Linked DNA regions of Homo sapiens. Each later gene encodes a partner of the first gene's protein in a complex. Each region holds a gene or a part of one and is shown on either strand. Other genes may lie near its edges.

Evidence for each region.
Region 2: IMMT (region 1) and CHCHD6 share a complex: the UniProt entries of both Homo sapiens proteins name them as parts of the mitochondrial contact site and cristae organizing system (MICOS) complex.
Region 3: IMMT (region 1) and CHCHD3 share a complex: the UniProt entries of both Homo sapiens proteins name them as parts of the mitochondrial contact site and cristae organizing system (MICOS) complex.

Annotation. Positions count from the first base shown.
Region 1 is NC_000002.12:86,143,463-86,150,487, reverse strand, and holds the end of IMMT (MICOS complex subunit MIC60), read left to right. Parts: intron 1-2,654; coding exon 2,655-2,786; intron 2,787-4,290; coding exon 4,291-4,420; coding exon of another isoform or gene 4,421-4,452; exon of another isoform or gene 4,453-4,928; intron 4,929-5,000; coding exon of another isoform or gene 5,001-5,118; intron 5,119-5,606; coding exon 5,607-6,220; 3' UTR 6,221-6,552; downstream 6,553-7,025. UniProt on the Homo sapiens protein: Component of the MICOS complex, a large protein complex of the mitochondrial inner membrane that plays crucial roles in the maintenance of crista junctions, inner membrane architecture, and formation of contact sites to the outer membrane.
Region 2 is NC_000003.12:126,700,135-126,707,239, forward strand, and holds the start of CHCHD6 (MICOS complex subunit MIC25), read left to right. Parts: upstream 1-4,105; 5' UTR 4,106-4,178; coding exon 4,179-4,265; intron 4,266-7,105. UniProt on the Homo sapiens protein: Component of the MICOS complex, a large protein complex of the mitochondrial inner membrane that plays crucial roles in the maintenance of crista junctions, inner membrane architecture, and formation of contact sites to the outer membrane.
Region 3 is NC_000007.14:132,785,091-132,792,115, reverse strand, and holds part of CHCHD3 (MICOS complex subunit MIC19), read left to right. Parts: intron 1-6,455; coding exon 6,456-6,479; 3' UTR 6,480-7,025. UniProt on the Homo sapiens protein: Component of the MICOS complex, a large protein complex of the mitochondrial inner membrane that plays crucial roles in the maintenance of crista junctions, inner membrane architecture, and formation of contact sites to the outer membrane.

The DNA.
Region 1 (7,025 bases):
TTCCTTCTTGAAACTATTTCTTCCCTAGGCTCCCTGACACCATACTCTTCTGGCCTTTCTCTTACCTTGCTGGCCACTCCTTAACCTCCTTTTCTGCTCAGCCTCTCAAATGGTGGCATACCTGGCATTAGTTCTGAAACGTTTTCTCCATCTGAACTGTCTCTAAGTGTTCTTGTTGAGTCCCGTGACTTGGAAGTTTAAATACCATCTATACCTGATAAATGTCTATCTCCAGCTCTGACCTCTGCCTTGGCTTCAGGTTCCTATCCAGCAGCCTACCTGGTATCTCCAGCTTGATTTTCAGTAGTCATTTCATGCTTATCATGCTCCAAACAGATTTATTTATTCTCTCCAACCTGTCTTCCAGCCCCTCAACTTGTTTCTCTCTAAATAAACTGAGTTGAACAATCTGCTCAGCTATTCCAGCCCAAATCATGCTTTGTTGTTCCTCCATCAACTCATATTCAGTTGCCCCACAGATCCTACCAGTTTTGCATCCAACATAAATCCCAAATCTGTCCACTCCATTACTACCACCTTAGCCCAAGCTGTCATCTTAACAGCTTCCACTATTTTTTCTTTTTCTTTCTTTTTTTTTTTTTTTTTTTGAGACAGAGTCTGTCTTTGTGGCCCAGGGTAGAGTGCAGTAGTGCAATCTTGGCTCATTGCAACCTCTGCCTCCCAGGTTCAAGTGATTCTTGTGCCTCTCAGCCTCCTGAGTAGCTAGACTTACAGGTGCATGCCACCACATGTGGCTAATTTTTGTATTTTTAGTAGAGACGGGGTTTTGCCATGTTGGCCAGGCTGGTCTCGAACTCCTGACCTCAAGTGATCCACCTGCCTTGGCCTCCCACGGCGCCAGAATTACAGGCATGAGGTACCATGCCCGGCCTTCCCCAAGGAATTTAAACACCAAAGTGCTGGGATTACAGGTGTGAGCCACCATGCCCAGCCAATTTGCCCTTTCTTCATACCCTTCTTTCTGTGTCTATTTACGCAGGCAAATAAAACATAGTCGAATCAGACACTACACTGCTGGAAATCCTCCATGGACTACCCATTTCATTTAATATAATTCCAAATTCTTAACCAGTACCCAAAAGGCTTCTTGATCACTGCATGCCATGAGCCATTTCACTGCTCCAGGCACCCTGGTATTTTTTGTCTGTACCTTGACTATATCTTTTGTCTTGGGACCTTTATGTTTTCTCTGCCTAGTACATTGTTCTATCCTCTCTGTTTAAACCTTGAGCTCTAAGCTTAAGTTTTAAGCCTAGATGTCACTTTGTTAGCAAGACTGAGATTTCCTATCCCTTCAGTCCAAAGTAGAGTCTCTGTATTACTTTCTGTTATGTTGCCCTGTTTATTTTAAATGTAAGGTGGGGGAAAAGGAGGTTGAAGGGGTGTTGATGCTTCACAACAGGTCCTTGCCTGCTCAGTCATATGTAGAAATATGTATCACAATCTCAGATGTCTTTTTTGTTTACTGTCTGCTGCCTCCATTGAGATATACACTGTGAGAGCAAGAAGTTCGTCTGCCCTAAGCACCATTGGATCCGTACAGATAGTAGGCACTGCCTGGCACACAGGGCTAGTAGCACTTCATAAATACTTATGCACTGACTGAATGGATTCATTGATTTATTATATTGTTTCTGAGAAAAAATAAGTTCTGGATTTCAGGTAATCAGTGTTAAGTAATTTGTAAAGTGACCTATGGCTATTTGTTAGGCAAGGTATATTTTTTGGTTTTTTTTGGCCCATGTTGAATTTAAATTCATTTAAAAATAAGCAGTTTTCTTTGTTTAGAAGTCTATGTCAAGTCTATGTCAATAACTACCAGATACTTACTAATTTTCTTTTCTTTTTTCTTTTTGAGATGGAGTCTTGCTCTGTCGCCCAGGCTGGAGTGCAGCAGCGCAATCTTGGCTCACGGCAAGCTCTGCCTCCTCGGTTCACGCCATTCTCCTGCCTCAGCCTCCCGAGTAGCTGGGACTACAGGCACCCGCCACCACACCCGGCTAATTTTTTTTTTGTATTTTTAGTAGAGATGGGGTTTCACCATTTTAGTCAGGATAGTCTCAATCTCCTGACCTCATGAGCCACCTGCCTCAGCCTCCCAAAGTGCTGGGATTACAGGTGTGAGCCACCACGCCCGGCCAACTAATTTTCTTAATGATTCTTCAAAGTAGGCATTATTACTCACAAATGAGAAAGTGGAGATTTGAGAAGATAAATCATTTCCCCAAGGTCACACAGATGGTTGTAGTAAAGCTACGCTTGATTCCAAGTATATAGTTACTTTTTTTCATATCCTGGATTTAGTTATTTCTCAGAGGAGCATGTGATTCAGGAAATGGCAGTGTTTTATATGAGAGGCAGCCTGGTGATGTGGAAAAACCACAAGTTTGGGGGTGAGAGAGACCTTTGTTTGAAATCTGGTTTTTGCCACAGCTGTGTGATCTTGTTTGAATCACCTTCCAGGGTTTAGTTTTCCGTTTCACATGAGAAGTAGAAGTGTACACATGCCTGGCACATTAGAGGCGTTCAGGATATGGAAGCTGCTGTTGTCATGGTTGATAGTGGTCTTTCTGTTTTCCTAAAAGTATATGTGGAGAATTGAAAACTAATAACTACTATGTTTGGTTTCACAGATAGAAGAAGTCAGAGATGCCATGGAAAATGAAATGAGAACCCAGCTTCGCCGACAGGCAGCTGCCCACACTGATCACTTGCGAGATGTCCTTAGGGTACAAGAACAGGAATTGAAGTCTGAATTTGAGCAGGTGAGGACCTGGACTCCCTTCAGCCACACCCCTCTTCCTGACAGGATTAAGAGACTCTCCTTTCCTTTTAATGTACTCTGAGGATGTCGAAGATTTGGAAATCTCCTTGTATGTCTACAAAACTGCTTCTTTTTACATAATGGTGTACCTGTGTGTTCATGATCAGATGTGTTTTTAAAATATATATTCTAGTCATTTGGAATCTTCAGAGCTTTAAGGAGAGTTGGTAAAGGGGATTTCAGGAATGCAGACAGTAATATTTGACATGTGTATCTTCCTCCTATAGATGGCATGGTACTGCTTAGATTTTTATAACTGAGGTAATTTCCCAGAGAAGTTTTGAAATCCCAGTAAATTATCAGGATGCCTGTAATCATAGTTTCTATTCAAGAAATCATTTACAGTAATATTAACTTGTTACTTTGTCTTGCAAGAAGATATTGAGGTTTTCTAAGTAAAATCTTCCAGAGAATCGCGATGTATGTCAGTATGAAAAGGTATTTTAAATTCTATTTGGATATTTTTCTGAGAAAAATTAATGTATAAGCTCTTAAATACAAGATATTAGAATATAATTTAATCTAATTATTATGTTTAGGTTTGCAGTACAGATAATTTACTTTCTAAAGCTGACAATTTGTGGCTGAGCACAGTGGCTAACACCTATAATCCCAGCAATTTGGGAGGCTGAGGCGGGTGGATCGCTTGAGGACAAGAGTTCAAGACCAGCCTGCCCAACATGGCGAAACCCTGTCTCTATTAAAAATACAAAAATTACCTGGGCATGGTGGTGCATGCATGTAATCCCAGCCACTCCGGAGGCTGAGGCATGAGAATCGTTTGAATCTGGGAGGTGGAGGTTGCAGTGAGCTGAGGTTGTGCCACTGCACTCCAGCCTGGATGACAGAGCAAGATTCTGTCTCAAAAATAAAATACAGTTGGCAGTTTGTTTCTGACTTTAACAGCCTTCTCTCTTCTCTTGGTATGCCTCCTCTAATATTAGGTTCCATCAGTAAACCTGTAAAGAATTATATACATCGGCCGGGCACGGTGGCTCACGCCTGTAATCCCAGCACTTTGGGAGGCCGAGGTGGGCGGATCACGAGGTTAAGAGATCGAGACCATCCTGGCCAACATGGTGAAACCCATCTCTACTAAAAATACAATAATTGGCATGGTGATGCATGCCTGTAATCCCAGCTACTTGGGAGGCTGAGGCAGGAGAATCACTTGAATCTGGGAGGCGGAGGTTGCAGTGAGCCAAGATTGTGCCACTGCACTCCAACCTGGCAATAAAGCAAGATTCCATCTCAAAAAAAAAAAAAATATATTATATACATCAAATATGAGTCAGGACATTTTTGAAACTTTACACAAAATGTAGGAATTTCGTGACAACTCTAAGGCCCTCTTTGCTTCAGCAAGTAGTTGCTGGAAGATTACACAGTTACATGACATGCATTGAGTATCACTTTTTTCTGGAACTATTTCTGTTTTATTTCAGAACCTGTCTGAGAAACTCTCTGAACAAGAATTACAATTTCGTCGTCTCAGTCAAGAGCAAGTTGACAACTTTACTCTGGATATAAATACTGCCTATGCCAGACTCAGAGGAATCGAACAGGCTGTTCAGAGTAAGCATAAGCTATGTTTATCTTACAGATAATTTTCCTCAGCATAATTTATCAAAATAATTTTATAGGGAAAATGGGGTACATGTACTGACATCAGGACATAAAAATACTAATCACTCTACTTAATTGCAGTTTTTGCCATTAAAAGTAATGGCAAAATCTATATAACTAGAAATTTATACCTTGTATGACAAACACAAAATCACCATTTACAAGGCTATTTACCCAGTATCCTTTGGCTATGTCGCATGTGCCTGGGTGGTAAGGGCTAGGGGTCAGTGTGGTCCCATGCTTGCCTTCCACAGACTTGGTGGGTTATCTGGAGGTGGTGATTTGCCGAGTCCAACTACCAAATGGACAGTATTTATGCTGAGGCCTCCATGTGCCACATTGAAAGAGAAATGTCATGACAATGAGGGTATTAATAAAATGGGTTTTTTTAGGATGTTATGGAATCTTTTTTTGTCACATAACAATAAAAATAAATTCAATACTCATGGAATTTCAAGATCCAGTAGTCTGTTAAGTTCGTTTGAAGTCTCCCATTTCTTTTTTTTTTTTTTTTTTTTTTTTGAGACAGAGTCTTGCTCTGTCGCCCAGGGTAGAGTGCAGTGGTGTGATATCGACTCACTGCAGCCTCCGCCTCCTGGGTTCAAGCGATTCTCCTGCCTCAGACTCCTGAGTAGCTGGGAATACAGGTGCGTGCCACCACGCCTGGCTAGGTTTTGTATTTTTAGTAGACACAGGGTTTCACCATGTTGGCCAGGCTAGTCCTGAACTCCTGACCACAAGTGATCCACCCACCTCGGCCTCCCAAATTGCTGGGATTACAGGCATGAGCCATTGTGCCTGGCCCTGAAGTCTCCCATTTCTTTGCAGAAAATTTCTCATGGCCTTAGCGTTAAGTCTTAGCCTAATTTAAATAATATGTTTCTTTCTCAACTAGTAAAGGTAAAAATATGTGGATTAGATATCATGCAGATGTGAATGACTTCTGACTTTGATATGAAGAGGCCAGCTAGGAAAATACACCAGAAATAAGTGGTGGGGGTGGGGTTGTAAGAAAGTCTCTCTGGCCTCATCTTGCACATGTGTAGATGTAGCTTGTTGAATGTGCATCAGTTCTGTGGATGTATGTTGTCAGATGGAGAGAAAAATGTTTGGCTTTGCCTTTTTTTCTTTGTAGGCCATGCAGTTGCTGAAGAGGAAGCCAGAAAAGCCCACCAACTCTGGCTTTCAGTGGAGGCATTAAAGTACAGCATGAAGACCTCATCTGCAGAAACACCTACTATCCCGCTGGGTAGTGCAGTTGAGGCCATCAAAGCCAACTGTTCTGATAATGAATTCACCCAAGCTTTAACCGCAGCTATCCCTCCAGAGTCCCTGACCCGTGGGGTGTACAGTGAAGAGACCCTTAGAGCCCGTTTCTATGCTGTTCAAAAACTGGCCCGAAGGGTAGCAATGATTGATGAAACCAGAAATAGCTTGTACCAGTACTTCCTCTCCTACCTACAGTCCCTGCTCCTATTCCCACCTCAGCAACTGAAGCCGCCCCCAGAGCTCTGCCCTGAGGATATAAACACATTTAAATTACTGTCATATGCTTCCTATTGCATTGAGCATGGTGATCTGGAGCTAGCAGCAAAGTTTGTCAATCAGCTGAAGGGGGAATCCAGACGAGTGGCACAGGACTGGCTGAAGGAAGCCCGAATGACCCTAGAAACGAAACAGATAGTGGAAATCCTGACAGCATATGCCAGCGCCGTAGGAATAGGAACCACTCAGGTGCAGCCAGAGTGAGGTTTAGGAAGATTTTCATAAAGTCATATTTCATGTCAAAGGAAATCAGCAGTGATAGATGAAGGGTTCGCAGCGAGAGTCCCGGACTTGTCTAGAAATGAGCAGGTTTACAAGTACTGTTCTAAATGTTAACACCTGTTGCATTTATATTCTTTCCATTTGCTATCATGTCAGTGAACGCCAGGAGTGCTTTCTTTGCAACTTGTGTAACATTTTCTGTTTTTTCAGGTTTTACTGATGAGGCTTGTGAGGCCAATCAAAATAATGTTTGTGATCTCTACTACTGTTGATTTTGCCCTCGGAGCAAACTGAATAAAGCAACAAGATGAAAACTGAGTATCTTATCCCTTTTCAAAAAGTACAGTTCTGGCCAGGTGCAGTAGCTCACGCCTGTAATCCCAGCACTTTGGGAGGCTGAGGCGGGTGGATCACCTGAGGTTGGGAGTTCGAGACCAGCCTGACCAACATGGAGAAACCCATCTCTACTAAAAATACAAAATTAAGCTGGGCGTGGTGGCGAATGCCTGTAATCCCAGCTACTCGGGAGGCTGAGGCAGGAGAATCGCTTGAACCTGGGAGGTGGAGGTTGCAGTGAGTCAGGATCGCACCATCGCACTCCAGCCTGGGCAACAAGAGCAAAACTCCGTCTCAAAAAAAAAAAATTCTAGTTTGTTGTATGTACAGAAAATATCCTTGAGAAACAACAACAGCAGAAGTAGGAACTTCTAGCTCACAGTTTCCAGGCTGTGAATTGCGTCACCAGAAGTCCACAGCCTGCTTTTTGCCTTTGAAGGTTTTGGTGAAT
Region 2 (7,105 bases), on another chromosome or scaffold:
TTGTCTTTCTGTGCCTGGCTTATTTCACTTAGCAAAATGTCCTCCAGGTTCGTCCATGTTGTCACAAATGGCAGGATTTCCTTTTTTATGGCTGGATAAAACACGCGTGTGTGTGTGTGTGTGTATGTATATATATGTGTGTGTAAAACATTTTATCTGCTCATCTGTTGATGGACACAGGTTGTTTCCATATTTTGGGTATTTTGAATAATACTACAATGGACATGGGGGAGCAGATATATTTTCAAGATTTCATTTCCTTTAGATATATACTGTTAAAGGAAAAACTTGAGACTGATTAAAGAGTTTGAGAAAAGGACAAGTTACAAATCAGGGAGCCCCCCAAATCAGAATAGCTTCAAAGAGACTTCAGTGCTGCCAGTGGGGTTGGAGAGGATTTAGGGACAGGAAAAGGAAAATGACATAAATAAAATGGAAGTGAAATACAGAAATAGCCAGATTGGTTACAGCTGGGTTACAGACTTATTTGAACACCGAACAGTTGGCCACCTGTGAGTAGTATGTCTTCTGATTGGCTGAGACTTGGCTACTTGTTATAAGAGTAGGTTACAGTCTGTTTACACATCCAGTTAGATTACAGTTCACTATGTATGGATCAACCTTTAGGCTGAACTTACAAGGAAGCAGCTTTAGGCTAAAGTTAACTATACAGAAATAGGATTATTAGATTGTATTGACTTTTGGGGGAGTTGCCATACTCTCTCCCATAATGGCTCTACAAATTTATATTCCCACCAGCAGTGTGCAGGGTTCTCTTTTCTCTACATCCTCACCAACACTTCTCTTGTCTTTATTACAATACTGATTCTCACAGGTGTAAGGTGATATCTCACCATGGTTTTAATTTGCATTTCTCTGATGATTAGTGGTGTTGAGCGCTCTTCATATGCCTGTTAGCTATTCACATGTCTTCTTCAGAAAAATGTCTATTCAAGTCCTTTGCCCATTTTTAAATTGGGTATTTATTTTTGCTATTGAGTTGTGTGAGTTCCTTATAGAGTATATTTGGATATTAAGCACTTATCAGATATATGGTGCCCAAATATTTTCTCCCAGTCTGTAGGTTGCCTTTTCAGTTTGCTGCTTGTTTCCTCTTATGTGGAGAAGCTTTTTTAGTTTGATGTCATACCATTCGTTTATTTTTACTTTTGTTGTTTGTGCTTTTGGTGTTATAGCCAAAAAAATTATCATCAAGACCAATGATAAGAAGCTTTCCACCTATGTTTTCTTCTAGGAGTTTTGGGGTTTCAGATCTCACATTTAAGTCTTCAATTCATTTTGAATGGATTTTTTATGTGGTGTAATACAAGGGTCCAATTTCCTTCTTTTGAATGTGGATATCCCGTATTTCCAGCTCCAATTATTGAAGAGACTTTCCTTTCTCCATAGTGTGTATATTCTCGGCACCATTATCAAACATTAGTAGACCATATATGCATGGGCTCTCTATTTTTCTGCATTGATCTATGTATCTATTTTTATGCCAGTACCATACTCTTTTGATTACTACAGCTTTGTAATATAGTTTGAAATCAGGGAGTATGATGCCTTCAGCTTTCTGCTTCTTTCTCAAGATTGCTTTGATGATTTGGGGTCTTTTGTGGTTCCATATGAAATGTTAGAATTGTTTTTTCTATTTATGTGAAAAATGTCATTAGAATTTTGATAATGATGACATTGAATGTGTAGATTACTTTGGGTAGTAAAGCCATTTTAACAATATTAATTCTTCTGATCTATAAACACAGGCTATCTTTCTACTTATTTATGTCTCCTATAGTATCTTTCAACAGTGTCTTATAATTTTTAGTGTGCAATTTTTTGTGTGCATCTTTCTTTCACCTCCTTGGTTAAATTTATTCATATTTTATTCTTTTTGGTGTTATTGTAAGTGGGATCATTTTCTTAATTTCTTTTTGAATAGTTTGTTGTCAGAAATCAGTAATAGGAAGAACTTTGGAAAATTCACACATGTGCGGAAATTAAACAACACATTCCTGAACAGCCAATGAGCCAAAGAATAAATCAAAAGGGGAATAAACAAGTATCTTGAGACAAATGAAAATGGAAACACAAGGTACCACAACTTATAGGATGCAATAGAAACATTTTTAAGAGGGAAGTTTATAGCGAAAAATACCTACATTAAGAAAAAAGAAAGACATCAAACAACCTAATTTTATATCTCAAGGAACTAGAAGAGGAACAAACTAAGCCCCAAAGTCAGCAGACTGAAGGAAATAAAAAAGATGAGAGCAGAAATAGAAACTAGAAAAACAACAGAAAAGATCAACAGTAAAGATCAACAAAATTAACAAACCTTAGCTAGACTAACCAAGAAAAAAGGTAATTCACATAAACAAAAGTATAAATGAAAGAGGAGACATTACAACTGATATCACAGAAATACAAAAGATCATAATCAACTACTATGAACAATTATACACCAAGAAACTGGATAATTTAGGAGAAATGGACGAATTCCCAGAAACATACCATCTATCCAAACTGAGTCTTGAAGAAACAGAAAATCTGAACAGACCAATAACGAGTAAGGAGATTGAATTAGTAATCATAAACCTCCAAGGAAAAGAGACAAAGGAAAGCCCAGGACCAGGTCTGACCACATCTTTACTCAGTTTTCCCCGCGGCCCCCGGTCCCCACCCCTCTTAGCCTGTCTCCCTAACTTCCTTTCTCCTGAGGTGCTCCCCCAGGAAACTCCTTGCACCAGAATCCCCTACGCAGGCTCTGCTTATAGGGAAGAAATGGACGACAGAGGTGATGGAGTGGGGTGCGCCAATGAAGTATTTTGAATGAAACTAGCAGACACCTTTGTTCCTAAAGATTCCATCGTCACACCAGCTCTGGGATGTTTACTAGCTTCTTCACCCTGAGCTATTCTCAATCTCAGAGCCTTACTGCTCTCTCTCAATCATTCTCTCCTCCTCACCCCTTTCTTTCCAGGTTGCCAATAGGAGCTCCAAATATTTTCTGGCTATTTCATGTAGCCATCTAGTTTTCCTCAGCTCGGCTTCAGGCGCACTTTTGCAAATCAAAGCCATTCAGCAACTCAGAGGAACAAAAAGGGGCTTATTTGAAGGTAGCAGTGTCTATGACTGGCAACCGTCTGTGTGCTCCCTTACACATAGGGTCCTGTGTAAGAAGCCTACACACAATGCCTGGCACACTGCACTCCACACATGGTATGTACACTCCTTGGGCAATGCCTCCTAACGGCTTAGGACCATTCCCTGTCCTCCCGGGGCGTTTAGAATAAAACCCACACTCAGACCCTGCCTCACAAGACCCGACATGATTTGGGTCCTCACCACTCCTCTGCCCTCTTCTCACTTTCCAGCCATGGGATGACCCCTCTTTCTCTTTTCCTGCCTGAGACTCCCAGGAAACCTCTTCCCCTACCTTTTTCTACATAAATCCTACTCTCCCGCCGGCTCAGTTCAAAGCTTCTTCCTCAGAGGTTGCTCTGGCCACTGAAATTAAAAGAGGCCTCCTTCTGTTCATTTTACTAGTGGCATCGCCATGCAGTTTTCCGTGTATTACAGTCAGTTTCCTTGCGTGCGTGTTTGGCTTTTCACTTGTTTTCCCCTTGCACTGTAAACCTCTCAAGGGCAGGACACTCGCTGTCTTGAGGGGCGCTGTAATGCCAGGGCCAGGTCCCTGCTCGTCTGGCGCTCAGCCCGTGCTGCTCTACACGTGTTTGCTGAATGAATGGAGCAGTGAACCCTCAGAAATTCGCCTCCAGATGAGCGCCTTGGCCGTCTCGGCGTCTCCTGGCCTCAGAACATCACCCTTGGCTCTCCCTCAAGGGGGAGCTCCCAAAGCGAGAACGTGACCCTGTCCTGCACCCAGCCCTCCACTCCAGGGCCTCCGCCGGTACACATCTTCGGCCTCAGCCTAACGCACTCTAGCAGGCACAGACCGCCACGCCCCCACCCCTCCAGACGGAAGGACTGCAATCCCCACAAGGCACCGCGACTCAGCGCCACCCGATTGGTGAAGCCTCTGGCGTCGGCCAATAGGACGTGGCTTTGTTGGCGTGTGCCGCGGCCGCGCGAGTCCTGGAAAGCGTTGTTGGCCCGGTTGCTCTGGAGCCGGGTCTCGGGTCTGGTGGCTGCCGGCCCTGCGGCATCTCGCCATGGGGAGCACGGAGAGCAGCGAGGGCCGCAGGGTGTCCTTCGGAGTGGACGAGGAGGAGCGGGTCCGGGTGCTGCAGGGTGTCCGGGTGAGCGGCGCCGCCTGGGCCGGGGCGGGCGTGGAGGCCGCGGGCGCGGGGGGGAGGTGCGGGGCGGAGCGCAGGGCCGGGGCTCTTTCCACGCGTGAGGGGCGTGGGGCTTGGGAGACTCCGGGGGCTCAGGCCAGGAAGAGGCTGAGCCGAGACGCGAGCCCGAGGCTGGCAGCCTTGGAGCTTCGCGACATGGGCTTCAGGGAAGGAGGAGTGAAGAACTGTACAGGTGCGAGGCCCCTGGGACACGAGGGACGCCCTGGCCACGTCCTGGCTCCGGTCGGCTTAGTTTTTACGTTTCTTGAATTTGCGCCCGGCCTCCCAGCCCGTGGCCCCTCAGGTGCGCGCATCTCGTTCTGGGTACGCGGTGTCTCCCACCTGGGCTTTGCCTGGGGACTCAGCTCTTCCCCGCCGGCCTGTTCTCCACAGCACATCTGCGGGGCGCAGGAAGAACCATAGCTCAGATCTGATCCCCTTCCTTGCCTGAAACCCTCCAGTGGGTTCCTAGCGCGCTTGGATGATGCCTTCCCTGGTTCCAAAGCTGGCCGCTGCCCGTCGACCTCTGGGGACTGCATCCCTCTGGGACTGCATCTCGTGCCATTTCCCTCGCGTGGCACCCGCACCTCGTCCCCAGCCTCAGGACCGCCGTGTTTTCCTGGAGGGTGCCGCTGGCTCAGCTCAGGGTCTGTGCGCCGGCTGTTCTCTCTCCTTCAGCTCTCCTTAAATCCCGCTGTTTCTTGTAATTCTTGTTGTAATTCAGATATCACCAGAGAATCCTTCCCTGACCACCCAATCTGAAGTAACCTCCCACCCCGCGTCCAACATTTATTATTTTCATAGCACTCATCACAGTGATCGCTTCTGTTGATAATTGTTTACTTGTTTATTGCGTTTACTGCTAGAGTGTAAGCTTTTTGAGGCTAAGGTTCCTGTCTGATTGAAGACTGTCCCCAGAACCCAGAAGAATAAAAGCAGCTCTTATTGCAGTGTAGGGGCCATGCGTTGGACTAAACCCTTTATAAGTTAACTGATTTAATTTTCAACAGCCCTATTTAGCCCATTATTGTAGATTAAGGAGAAGTGAGGCACTGAGAGGTGAACGAACTGATCCAAGATCATGTAAATAGTAAGTGGGAGAGCTGGGATTGAAACAAGCCAATTCCAGGGCATGTTGCTGTGCTCGGCCTCTTCCTCCACCTGTGTCTACACCTGCAGGTGCTTTGTAAGTAACTGTGGAGAGATGAATGAACCCAGTAAAAGGGACTAGGATTAAATGAAACGCACAGAGCTGGGTGTAGATGAATTAGTTAATTAAGGAGGAATTAGGGAGGTGGCTTAGAAAGACAGACTTCAGGAGTTCTGGCAGGTGCTCATTAGCTGTGTGACCTTGGGTAAAAAACTCTTTTGAGCCTCAATGGCCACATTAAAAAAAAAATTGGGTGTGTATGTATCCTAGGTACTGCCTAGGATAAGATGATGTCTGTGAAAGTGTTAAGGAAACGCACAGAGAGAGTGCTTTGTGGAGGCCTCTCTTCTTAGCCTAGCAGAGTACTTGGCACATTTGGTGCTTGCTAGGCGTTGTATAGTTTTGTGGACCTCACTCGTGGCAAGGATTAAATGGGGGAGGAGATGGCTTGTGTTGGAAGGCCGAGAGGGAGGAACCTGAATTGGAATTTAGAAAGATAAGCTTGGCTCTGTTTGGGTGCTCTCACCCTTGTGATTTGGTCTCCTGTTTTGGGGAATGTTGGAAAGTTAAGTTGGAGTCCTCAGAGGTTCAGGGGAGTGCCTTTGGGGGTGCCTTCTTTCAAGTTGATTGGAAACCTCATGTTTTTTGAGTATTATATAAGACAGGTACATTTCATTTCTAGTTCTCTTAAATACTTCTGCAACATATAAATTCTCTGTATTTAAAGATGGAGAATTGAGCTTAAAGGAGTTAAGGAATTTGCCCAAGGTGTTAACCTGAGTAACTTCTGGGACTTTAATTAAGATCTTTTCGGTGCAAAAAGCAACTTTTTCTCACTTCTGCAATTCCCCCCCATGATGTATGCAAGGCAGCCTGAAAATTTTGTGACAATACCCATACCTGTCCTGACAGGGATGATAGTGCCCCACTTAGTTTTAAAACTGGAAGGAACTTTGGTGACTGACTGCTTTCTTTTCCAGCTGGGCAAACTAATCAGAGAGGATAAATGACTTGTCCAGAGGTGCACAGTAAGGTGCACAGCCCCACGTTATGAGAGCCACGTCCTTCCTTCTGCTTGTGTTTGAAAGAGGAAAACTGAAGAAAGGAGGTGATGGTATGAAGAAAGGATGTTTTGGTGTAGAGGCTTTTTCTGTTAGCAGAGTTACTTGAGGGTTGAGGAATTCACCTTGTCTTTAGGCAAGTGAGTGAAAAAGATTGCCAGATCAACAAAACAGTTGCCAAAGGGAACAAATCAGTTCATTTAATGAGAAGCAGATGCCAAAGAAGATCTGCCCCAGCTTCTTTAGAGCAAGTTGAATATTCTTAATGACCATTTGTATTTAATTCCTGAGGCCTGGTCTTAGAAAGTGTTCTCGTCCCTGTAAGATTAAGTGTTAGTGGCTGGTAGTGGTGGCTCATGCCTGTAATTTCAGCACTTTGGGAGGCCGAAGTGGGCAGATCACCTGAGGTCAGGAGTTAAAGACCAGTCTGGCCAACATGGTGAAACCCTGCCTCTACCAAAAATACAAAAGTTAGCTGGGCATGGTGGCACACACCTGTACACCCAGCTACTTGGGAGGCTGAGGTAGGAGAATCCTTGAACCCAGGAGGGGGAGGTTGCAGTGAGCCGAGATTATGCCAGTGTCCTCCAGCC
Region 3 (7,025 bases), on another chromosome or scaffold:
CAGGAGATGCCCAAGGGACAGAGGTCAGTGTGGGACCTGCAGTTAGATGATGAGTCTGTCAGGGGTCCCCCAAACCATAGCAGAAGTTTCAGTCAGTAAGCAGGCAGTGGGACAGTAGCCACGCAAACAGTTAGTTCAGCTCACAATAAGGACGTCTTGTAAATGAGACAGCCCCACCTCAGACCTACATGCTTCCTGCTGATCTCTTTGGAGAGATCAGAAAGGAACCTGGCCACAGTGAGGAACTTGGGGTCAGGACCCAGTAAATGAGGCTAGATCCTAATGTGACAGCTCTCCAACTTAAGGCTAGTGCACCCCGTTGTCTCGTTTCTAAAATATCATTGACATCTCCAGTATTTGGTTGGCTTCCTAAGTCAAAGCCTCAAGATCAGTGCATATGGAGGAATTTGCCCTGGCACAATTTCTGTCCGCCTTCTGAAGGACAATTTCATCTCCCCGGTGAACTGTATTTATATTAGACCAGGATTCTGCTCCTAAGTCTGTGACATATTTTGAGTATGAAGGGGTCCTGAAAACATAGTAGTAGCTTTTGCTTAAAAATCAAGGTTCTTGAAAGAAAAACCTATTGCCAGAGCAAGCTGTATGTTATCATTGTTTTCAGATGAACTCTACATTAGATGCAAATGATTTAATAGACTTATAGGCTGTTGGAGCTAAAAGGACCCTAGAGATCATATAACCCAACCTCATTTTTTTCATGTGCAAAATTAGCTTCCAGAGAATTTAAATGATCTGTAGAAGGGCAGAACCCAGACCAAACAGCCCACTCTTAAATTCAAAACCAGGGTATTTTTCCTGTCGTGTCAGATCTCAGATGTGGGTGAGCATCAGAATCCCCTGAGGGGTTTGCTTAAAATGTACCCACCCAATCCCCATCCCTGGAGATTCTGATTCAGAAGGTCTGGGGTGAGGCCTGGGCATCTGAACTTTGACCAAATTTCCCAGGAGACTCTGTACCCAAAGTTTGAAAACCATTGCTCTTAGAGCCCATTGGCCTGAATTGCATTAAAGGTCTTTGACCTTTCAGAGGTCCTGCCAAGTCCTTGTTTTCCATCTTTTGGGAGATGGGGAGCTATCACTCCCTATAGGTCAAAGCTACCTGGCAGAGGTCTCATCAGACCAACCCTAGGAATGAATCTTTAGCCTTAAGAACAAATTGGAAGATGATGTGGGAATCAGATGGAAGCCTTGAAAAGAGATCCCCTTCCCCTCTTCTCTTGCTCCCATTGAAACAGTAGGTGACCCCAGTCCCCTGGCTAGCTCACAGCTGTGACCAGACCCTCCCTTGGTTCTACTGCTCCCAGTCACCCTGCTTCTCTCCCCGACCCACATCAGGGTCCCCCCGATGTACACGGTGGCCACTTTCAGAGAGCACGAAGATAATCAAGAAGGTTAACTTTCTGGGAAGCCCCCCAGGAGCATGTTTTTATTGTGTTCGAAAGCTGCTTTATCATTATCGCTTGATGACATTTATTAATTGCCCAGCTGGGATGCTGGTCACAGGGTGACTGACACGTGGGTATTTCATAATAGATTTCCCATTTTTTTGGTAGGGCAGCCCTTTGAATTTAGAGTCAGATCAAAGCAAACAAAATTCCAAACTTTAAATTTCCTATCCCAACCTCTTCCATCATAGGAATCCTTTTCTAAACCACTTTCTGAGAGTAATCGTTGCTTCGTGACATTTTCTCTTTTTTTAAATCTGAGTTTAATAGAAGAAATACTACCATGGTAATAGATTTTCATTTTTCTTAATAGGTATTTCTTTTCCCATGGTCATCCTTCAATTAGAACTGCAGTATGTTAGTGTTTTGTCTGTTATTGCAGCCAGCTGTATAAACAGTTAATTACTTGTAACTTAATTTGAATATTATACAGAGCATTTGTCATAGAAGATATAAAACAAGATCCAGGCAGAAAAAAGTTAACTTCTATTTCCTCCAAAGCAGGAGGAACAAAGAACAAACAGCTCTTGCTGCAGGGGAATAGACACATATTGAAAACAAAATAAGTGATCTAATCAGATTTCCAGGTAGTGAAGAACAGTACTTGGTGCACAGGCAAAACTCGCTTTGTGCTTCCCATAAATTCAATTTATAGATGACTTTTCCTTCCTGTCTTATGCACAGTCTTCTCATTCTGGCTTTTTCCTCATCGAAGCTCCAGTGTCTCCCACTCCCCACTTTTCCTGACCCTCCTTAGTAAAACTCGTGTCTTAAGACCAGGTCTGTGCCAGGACACATCTCCAGTTTCATTTTTCCTTGGTTAGGTAGACCTTCCTGCTTCTCTACCCAGCTTTATGAGGCCTGAAGTCTTGGTGAGGCGCTGGGTAAGTTCATCCAGAGACAAGCACCCTGAGTGGTATCTTAAAAAACAAACCGCTTTTCTTCTCTTCATGATGATTGGTTAGCAACCCAGGGTTGCCATCATTTCTCTTAAATTATCAACACAACCAGTAGCTGGCATGCTGCTATGATAGTCAACCCCTCCAAGAAAGCTGTGATTCAAAAATCAGTTGATGAGATTACTGCTTAACAGAAATATTTGAGGCAAGCGGTTAGGATGGTTAGTAAGGTTTTAATAAGCGGAAATGACACGCAATCTCAGGTCTCCAGGGGCGCTGTTCTTATTTGTGAGCTGCCGGTTGTTCTTCAGTGGCTGGAATGAGAAAAAGACTTGGGAAAAGAGCAGTGTTCATGCCTGAACCACTCTCTTCTTTTGGTGATTTACCCAGCTGTTTATAAAAGGAGTTTCTGCAGGCCCAGATACGTGAATGATGAGCAAAAGCAAGGAATTTCTTTCTCCACATTAAGATTAAGTGTTAGCAGTTCCTTAAATGAAGGAAGCAATTTTTTATAACTTGCAAAGCTTCTCCCTCATTCTTTAGGGAATTTCCTATGTTAATTTATGCAGTGTTAAATTTATGCAGCGTTGAAATTCAGCCCAACAGCAGTACTTACGGAACCAATACAGAGACAGTAGAACCTATAAGGTGAAAGCTGAATAACACAGACCCCACCAGACTACGGATCCCTCCAGCCAAAAGCCCTGAGTTCTGAGTTGGAGCAGGTTTTGTCGCATAGCTGGAATATAATAATAACCCAAAATGTTTGACAGATGAATTCATCTTTTTTAAAAATCCAGCCTGCCATTGTGTTTGTTAATTTCCCTGATAGAATTGAGATGGTTTTGTACCACCCCTGCCACCCTTTGGTAGCAAGTGAGTGCAGTTTGACAAAATGTTTATAGATCAGCCCTGGTGCTTTTCTGTGGTGGTCCCACATGTCTTCAAGGAGTCACCACAAATCAGCTGAACCACTGTGCTATCTTGGAGGATTAGAATTTTAATACATGTAACGGTATTTTGTGAATGTGGCTAAAGGGGTTATTAAAATGTTACTTCTTTTAGTGTCTTTATGTGAGACTGGCCTGCTCATCCTCAGACCAGCCAGGCCCCATCTTGTCTCTTTCTGAAAGAGAGCCTAACATTCTTAGCATGATATGATTTGGCTGAAAAATTACCCATCTATATTTGGTTGAGGTTGCAGAGAGAATAGTAAAAACAATCTCTAGACTCGTGAAAACACTCTTTAACTGTTGCTTTCCTTAAGTTGTGGCAGCTGCAGGTTATTTTGCAATATTTGAAAGGAGGTACATTGTCATGTGGTTATCCTTGTAACCCTAAGCCCAAAATTGTAGAGAGGGGTACAGCTATGTAATCTTGACCAGGCAGATGACAACTCAAAGCTCCCATCAGTGTGTTGAAGAAAGCAGTGAATCTATAACCCCCCCAAATGCAAATGGCTAAGTGGCATCATTTATAAAGAGATCACTTTCTCTAGTAACTGCATTCCCTTAGATAGGCTCAGTATAGATCTGCTTGATACTGGCTTCCATTTTGTATTTAATAAAGCATGATGTAGTGAGGTTGTCTATATATCTGGAATTTATAGAACTTATCATCTATGTGATTGGAGAGGCTCACACAGATCAATTCATAAGCAGGTGAGCATAGCTGAGATGCTGTGACGCTGTGACACTGCCAGGTGGTGTCTCTTACATGGTGGGTGCTCAGCGTGTTATTTTCCCAGCGAACATGGGGCTGGTGCCTCACATTCCAGTATGAGTTCTTACAGGACAACTCTCTGCTGAGCAATCTTCCACTGCACCTACTTTGTTTTTCCTGTTTTCCCTAAATGCATCTAGCTTTTCTAATTTACCTCCTGTATGACAGAATCATTGTTTTTCTCACCACTGTGTGTGTTATGTCTAAGTTTGTCTGCCTTTATATCTGTTCTTTTGTGCCCTATGACATAGACTTCTTAGAAACCTATAATGATGAACACTTTAGGATAATCTATCCACCCTTTGCTCCTATGACCCAATACACCATCTTGTTTGACTTCTACTCTTTCTGTTCTGTCCCCTTAATTTCAATCATTTTTAAATTTTTGACCCTAAATTGTTGTGTCTAGAGACCTTTGACCTCAGAGGGCCTACAGCGTCCTTCTAGACATTTCCATTTTGGATGTCTCACCCAAAATTGCCTCACAAACCCAAAATTTAAGTCATCCTCCTCCTTCCCAGGCTCCCACTGACTTCCCTGTTTCTCTTGGTGGCCCCATCACTGTCTTTGTCACCAAGGATCCTCCCATACCTTGGGTGTCACCATCTCCCTTTTTCTTCCCATGTAGCTCTAGTTCTTGTTTCCACCTTTGTCTGGTTTCTAATCTGCCTCCTCCTTGGGCTTCCTGCCTGCAGACTCCCCTCTGTTGGATCCATCATGCTGAGGATGTCAGGTTAACATTCCTAAATGCCATTCTCCTATGTAAAAGCATTCCTCCATGTTTTCTGTGGCTAGCAGGACATGTCTCAGCCTGGCGTCCGTCCTGGGCCCTCTTTCCACCCTTTCTCTTGGTCAGTCCTGAGCATGTACCCTTTCTTCCAGCTAGGCCTCTCCCCTCAGGATTCTGTGTGTGCTAGGCTTCTTCCCCTGCTGAATCCTGGCCACCGCTTTCTCCCCTCACTCCTCCCAGTCCCACCCCAGTCCTCCACCTGGATTCTCTCCATGGTGGAAGGTCCTTGGAGAAGCCTTCCCTGCTCGCTCCAGCTACAGGGTTGCCCTCTGCACCAGGCAGAACCATTCCTCTTGTGAACTGTGACCATCTCTGGAAGGGGACACAGAAACTGGGAAACGGAAGGAAAAAATTACTTTCTACCAGATACTATTTGGTTCCTGTTAAATGTTATGCTGTTTACACAATAAATTTTAGCATGTATTTAGCAAATAAATAAAAATTAGCAAATTATTACCTTTTATTATTCCTGAATTTTCCACAGGTGTATGTATTAGTTTCCCCAATGCACTAAACTGAGTGCAGTGGTACCTGGTAGGAGCTCAATGAAGAGATGGCTGGAAGGGTGCGGGTTGGCGGGAGGCAGGTGGGAATGGATAAACTAGAGGCAACCTCGGCCTCACCTTGCCTCTCTGAGTGGTTGCAAAACTAGAGGGGAAAGTATCACTTTTTTCTTCTTAAAGACCTCTAAAAATGAAGGCAGTATACCCCCATTTCAGCTGGTTATAGAGTTCTCATCTGATAGTTAAGAATTCTTCCTATCTACATCCTCATCTCCCAAATAAATAACTAAATAGAATGTAGGGACCATTTCTGCAATCTGGGAATAGGTACCAATCTGTGTAGCTCTGTCCAGCCTCATGAGCACATGAACATCTGCGTTCTCCCCCTCTGGGAAGGAATCTTGTGTTTCTCTAATGAAGAGATTCCCTCTCAGAGCCTTTGGAGTTGGGGTTTGATCCCTGCACTGCCTTGGCCATAGCTTTCCCCCGGTCACTGCATCCATCAGCCATGCTCCCAACATTTCCAAATGCCCCTACCAGGAGCACTTTTGCTTTCTATTTGAGACAGCAAAGACTGTTGCCCAAGCTGGAGTACAGTGGCATGATCATGGCTCACTGCACCCTCTGCCTCCCAGGCTCAAGGGATCCTCCCACCTCAGCGTCTCGAGTAACTGAGACTACAGGCACACACCACCATGCCCAGCTAATGTTTTTGTTTTTGGTAGAGATTGGGTTTCATTGTGTTGCCCAGGCTGATTTCAAGCTTCTGGGCTCAAGTGATCTGCCCACTTTGGCCTCCCAAAGTGCTAGGATTACAGGCGTGAGCTACTGCGCCCGGCCTTGTTGGGGTTTTCAACCCATGTGGTGGTGAGAGGGGTCATTTAAAGATCATATTGATAAAGCAATGGTGTTGATTAAAGGAGCAATATTTTGAGAACAGGAAGCATATGCCTTGTTTTCTGTGTTTTTAAAATTAGATATTTGAAAAGCAACACAAATCATACTAAATAGTTAGTGCCATTTATTTTTTGTCCTCTCCCGGTGGTAAAACTTACTCTTTCTGTTTTTCTTGCAGAGCATGCTTGAGAAGGGAGGATAAAAACTTTCAGAATGAGCAAAACACCATCAACGTTAATTCCAGAGATGGAACATTTTTTTTCCTAGTGAGAAAACAACCCATTTGAAGAGAAGACCACTAATGAGAAGACCACTAAAGAGAGACATCAAGAATGGATTCAGCAGAATCATTTCACGTTTTGAACAGCAGCAGTTTGAAGGGCCAAAGCCTTGATCAGGGATCAGTCATTAAAGGACACTCTTGAGTATTAGTAAACCCTCTTATGATGATTAAAAGAGAAGGGCAGCCCTCTCCACCTTTTGGTACTTTCTATTCAACTTGCACTGACCATAAAATGTTTCTCTTCTGAACAAGCCCCATCATTTGGTGAACCTCCACCCTAACAAAGTAGGATGGGGTTGGGGGCTAAATTAATTGGAGTGGGGCGAGGAGAGAGCCAGAAAACATAGATCCGAGGGCAGCAGTGCTGGGTGGAGAGAGCCAGAAAACAGATCTGGAGGCAGCAGTGCTGGATGGAATTGTCTAGGCTGTGGCATGTTGGTTTTGTCTTTCTTTTCTCCTTTGATT